Linked DNA regions of Homo sapiens: region 1 is linked to region 2. A link means that fine-mapping ties the variant in region 2 to the expression of a gene that starts in the linked region. Tissue or cell type: subcutaneous fat. Region 2 holds a variant in brackets; the other region holds the start of a gene. All regions are shown on one strand. Distances are from middle to middle.

The links. PIP is the estimated chance that this variant, and not a neighbour inherited with it, causes the effect.
Region 1: it holds the start of RGS7BP, and the variant in region 2 is fine-mapped to the expression of RGS7BP in subcutaneous fat (GTEx, PIP above 0.99).

The regions. Positions count from the first base shown.
Region 1 is chr5:64,504,417-64,507,178 of GRCh38, forward strand. RGS7BP (regulator of G protein signaling 7 binding protein) reads left to right here and starts at 1,599. Exons shown (of 6, transcript NM_001029875.3): 1 at 1,599-2,373. The coding sequence starts at 2,209.
Region 2 is chr5:64,583,089-64,585,850 of GRCh38, forward strand. All of the region lies in intron 3 of RGS7BP (regulator of G protein signaling 7 binding protein), which reads left to right. Among named protein-coding and RNA genes, the nearest start is that of RGS7BP, 78 kb to the left of the region's middle. The variant G/C (reference allele first, on the strand shown) is at 1,583.

The sequences.
Region 1 (2,762 bases), 79 kb before region 2:
CATCTCAGAGGCCAGTCACAAGTATGGGATCCACAGGTTACCAACTCTTCTCTCCATCTTGGCGACAAATTCAGGGGTTCCTATAACCACCTTCTCAGATTTGGTAATTCACTAGAATGACTCACAGCACTCAGGAAAGAGCTTTACTTACTATTAGCAGTCTATTCTAAAGGATACAACTGAGGAGCAGCCAACTGGAAGAGAAACATAGGGCAAGGTATGGGAAAAGGACATGGAACTTCCATGCTCTTTCCTGGTGTACCACCCTTCCAGCACCTAGATGTCTTCCACAACCCAGAAGCTCCCCACACTCTATTGTTGTTTAGGAGTTTTACAGAGGTTTCTTTATGTAGGCATGATTGATTAAATAATTGGCCATTGGTGAGGAACGCAGTCACTAGCTCCTCTCCTATCCCCTGAGATTGGGGGATGAGGCTGAAAGTTGCAAGCAACTAATCAAGGCTTGGTCTTTCTGGTGACAAGATGGCTTATCATAATAACTCAGGCAATTTCTAAGGGTTTTAGGAGTTCTGCCCTAGGGACTGGGGACAAAGACCAAATAACTCTCTTATTATAGTACCCCATTATATTTACTTGTCTTGTAGAAAAGGTTGTAAAGCCACCCTCCTTAGGATATTAACCTTCCTGGCTATTTCAGGCTTTCTCTTTCTATGTACTCTCCATATCCCTTTAACAGACTGACCAGGAACCTCTAATCTGTTCTTATTAGGATTACTAATACATAACTAGTTTTCCTATGGGAGACCCCTTTATCTCCCTCTCCAAACAAATCATTCAGGAGAACAAGCATCCTTAGAGCCTTAGAGTTGAATGCCACAACACTCTCTCTTCCTCCCAGAAGAACCTTAGGAAGATGTCAGTGGGAAGGGTGAACTTAAATGGCTGAGGGCCTCACCCCCACTCCTTTCACACAAGAATCATCCCCGATTTTCTGGGCCACCTCTGTTGGCCTCTGGGTTACTGATATCCCATAAGTGAGAAGAAGGTCATTTTGAGTGTCCAGGGAGATCTCTTGGCTCTTATTTGTTCAAGTCTCCGGAAGGGAACTCTAGGAGCTGAGTCCTGAGACCCTGCAATGCAAGACCAAGAGCTTTACTACTTGAAATGGGATGGGGATGAGGCCCAATCTGAGTGAATGCCTCTGTGCATTCTGCCTCACTGGCTCTCCTCTTTCCCCCTCCATGAACAAGGACAAAATAAAAACAAAACAACTCAGGGAAACAAAGCTCTCCTTTTAGGTTATCAAGAGGTCTTCCATTTGGAGCAAAACCTCACTCCCTCCTGTGGCCCCTGTCTCAGTCTCAGTTGGTGAGGGCCTCAAGCCCACACTGGCTTATTTGAAATCCATGTTTAGGTCCCAGCATGTGGCATGTGCTCCACTCTGATGACACTTTTCGTTTCTAATAATAGAGCAGATGAAGTAATATTGCAATTGATGTTCCCGGGGATTTGATTGGATAAGTGCATAAACTGTGGAGGGGGAAGGGGGTTGCATGGACAGATCACATTAGTATTCCCGTCCTATCAATGTGCGGGCCCGCGAACAACGTCAGCCGGACCGATTCTCTGCGTCTGCCAGTCCCGCCACAGATTCATCTGGGATCTTCAAACAGACAAGCCCTTAGAGACGAGGGATCAAGGCAGCCGATTAGAGCCAATTGCTTGCTTTGGGGACGGCCAGTCCTTCCAGGCCTGGCGACAGTGGAGGGAGGGGAAAGACGAACCGAGTGCCGCTGCGGGAAGACACTGAAGCAAGAGCGACACCCCTTTCCGCCCCCCACCTTGCAGCGCAGGCTTTGAAAGCTGCTCCCCCACCTGAATGGAAACTCGGAACCGCCGGGCGGCGCGTTCCTTCTCGCCCAGCCTTGCAATCCATGCCGAGAGGAAGGCAGTGCGAGCCCGCGCCAGCGCCCAGCTCCCGGGACAGGGTCGGCAATGCTGCTGAGCAGAACTTGATCGCGCTCCTTCCTCGCTGCTAGTGGAAGCGATGCTGCACGGCACAGCTAGCGCTTCCCCGGCTCTCCTTCAAGCTGAAGGTTACCGACCCGCGCAGCCAGCCCCAGCACTGTGAGCTGCGCGCCTCAGGTCCGGGCTCCGGCTGCTTGGCGGCGGCGCCCAGGGCAACAACCGGGCCGCCCGCGCCGGGGCGCACTGCACCAGCGGCTTCGGCTTGGTGGATGTGTATGCATGAGTTCTGCACCGAATGGGCGCAAAAAGCGCCCCAGCCGGTCCACCCGCTCCTCGATCTTCCAGATCAGCAAGCCCCCGCTGCAGAGCGGAGATTGGGAGCGCAGGGGCAGCGGCTCCGAGAGCGCCCACAAAACCCAACGAGCCCTGGACGACTGCAAGATGGTGGGTGAAAACTGCGCCTCTTTTTTTTTTTTTTTAATTGAGAGGGGGTGGGGGGAGTCATGTATGTTAATCATTTGCCTGAGTGCCAGCCACTCCCCCACCCTCAGCTCCTCAATGCCGATCACGTGGCACATGCACTATTTTTAAATCTGCAGTCCCCCAAATTCAGGGTGACACCCTGGTCGTAATAACCCTGCAGAAAGAAGTGTGACAGCAAGGGTCTTGGGGATCAGCGGCTGTAGGTTGTGCCTGTACCCCCTCGAAGAATGGTGGATGCGAAAGACACAGTGAACTGGCTCGCTCACGGAGGAGGGAGGGATGAGGAGGTGGGGATGCTGCTTTCTGGGGACAGAGTAGCAAACAAACCCAAATACAGCGCACGGGGCGCT
Region 2 (2,762 bases):
TTAAGACTGAAGAGGTAGGCCAGGCGCAGTGGCTCACTCCTGTAATCCCAGTACTTTGGGAGGCCGAGGCAGGCAGATCGCTTGAGGTCAGGAGTTCCAGACCAGCCCGGCCGACGTGGTGAAACCCTTGTCTCTAGTAAAAATACAAAAATTAGCCAGGTGTGGTGGTGGGTGCCTGTAATCCCAGCTACTCAGGATACTGAGGCAGGAGAATTGCTTGAGCCCAGGAGGCAGAGGTTGCAGTGAGCCGAGATGACGCCACTGCACTCCAGCCTGGGCGACAGAGCAAGACTCCATCTCCCCAGAAATGAAAAAGACTGAACAGGTTTCTGTTTCTTGTGAAATATATATTCTAAGGCAAAGGGAGAGAGGAGAAAGAGAGACAGACAGAGCAGAGGTAGGGGGAGGGAGAAGAAAGAGAGGAGGGGAAAAGAAAGAACAGAAATAAACAACTTTTCTAAAAGTTCCAAATACTAATAAGTGCAATGAAAATAATTGAAATAGAATGGATGATGATGTAATAGAAAGTGACTGGGTGGCTACTTTGGAAGGGCTGGTCAAAGTTCTCTAAGGAGATAAAATTTAACCTGAGACTTGAACGACAAGAAGGAAACAATTTCATGAACATTCGTATTACCAATGACCAGAATAAGCATGTAGTGTTTGAAGAATATAAACATAACTAACTTCTGAAATCCAAGGATAATCTAAAGCCTTCTTCTACTCTATCTCCATGTCTTCATATACCAGTGAGTAGGACACTATTTGTCACCTTTAGTCAATGTAGATGTTGGCTGAAGAATAGGATAATAGCAATGACAATAGCTTCCACTTACTGTGTACCTTCTACTTGCCAGGTGCATTATACACATTATCTTATTTTATCCTCAAGTATATTTTCCCCATTTTACACATGAGGAACTCAAAGCTCAATGAGGTAAGTTGCCCAAGGTCACATAGCACATTTATCTCACTACAAAGTTTGTGGTTGTTCCACTGCACTAGACCATTCTTACTAAGCTACATTGGAGAAGGGCAGGAGGGCATATCAAATGGAGAAATAAAGGATAGTAGCACAGTTAGCTGAATTCTATCTTATTTAATGATTAGTGAGCATATTTCAAAACCATGCTTAATAGCTAAAATCCATTGTATATTTAGTTTCTTACCAAAATAACACTAAGTTGGGAGAGGTATTTTCAAGGGTGGAGAGAATTTTAACTCCATATATCATCTTATTTACAAAATATGTAAAATGGGTGAAAAAGTTTAATTCTAAGAAACTATTACATATAGTAAAAGTAAATAAATAAAATGAAACATTCACGTGATCCAAAAGGCATAGGAGTTAGCCCTGACACCCAGTATGGAAAAGTCTGAATTAATTAACTGTAGAGTGAATACATCTTAGACACTGTGCTGCTCTATGTTAGGGGCTGGAAAGGGAGCACTCAGAGCCCCATAAGGATATCCTTTGAACGTATCTTCTATTGTTTGCTCTTCTCCTGTGTTCCAAGGGGGCTCTGTGCTTCTTACACAGCTACTTGGCACTACCATGAAGGCTGCTACTCTGGGGGCTGTG[G/C]CAGTGCCACAAGGAGCACAGAAGAGGCCAAAGGGCAGTAGGAGAAGGGGATGGTTTTGTATCTCTTCTGAACTGGAAAATGTTTATCTCCCAGTACATGGGAAGAATGGAGCTCCGGGTATGGCATAATTATTATTTTTTGCCATGTGTTTTATGGCCCTAAGAATATCTTCTTACCACAGTGTGGAAAAACCTTTGAAACTGCTTTTTAATATGGGTAAATGACTAACTGAATTAATATAATTTATTTCTATTTAAGTTACATGCTTTTTAGAAACACAAGAGAGTAAAAGTGGATTACTTTAAAAAACAGCCTATACTTCCCCAGTCCTTTTCACAGTGCACGGAGTTAAAAAGCACCTAGCAGTTATGAAAATGCATGAGAATTAGTATAACTGTTTGGATTCATAAGCATCCGTGAATCTAATGTAAGCCATGTTCATTTTGTTGTTCGCATTCAGTCAGTATGAAAACTGCCCTGCAAGCCTGTTCAGTGCATAGTGTCATAGCAGGTAATGTGTCAGGAGCACAAAGGATGTAGGAAATTTACTCCTGCCACCAAGGAAGTGATAGGGCACTGATACAGTATTATCCCAGAGAAGATTGGTTTATTCTGTTTTGATTCCTGGAGAAATTTACTCAAATGGATAAATTCACTTTACTGGACAACAGAGACCAAACTAAGGACATCCAAAAAGATATTATCTATGGCAGTGCCTTCCATTGTCACTGGCAAGCTGAAGACAGGCAGGAAAGCAAGAAGGAATGGAAGGGGCAAAGAAAAGAGGAGTGGGGAAAACACGAGTGGAGGAGAAAGGATGGGAGAAATAAGAGATGAGAAGGAAAGGGGTCTCTAGAGTGGGTGTGATAAAGGACTCCCAGCCCACTCCTCTGGTGCCTGTGCCAAGGACTCCTAAAGCTGCGAGTGCTCTATTGCACCCCTGAGACTGCCCCACAATCAGATGTGTTTTTGTTTCTCGTGAATGACCGGCAATTTCTCACGAATATAAGAATAACCAACCTTTCAATTTGTTATGTGCTTCATGGGTGGCTTCCCTTAAATTTTCCTCAAACATGCCTATTACATTATCCATAAACAAGCTAAAAATACATAGAAATCCCCAAGGAGCTGAAGGCTAAAAGCTTTGCAAGACTTTAAGGAAAGTGGCCAAGTTTTTGA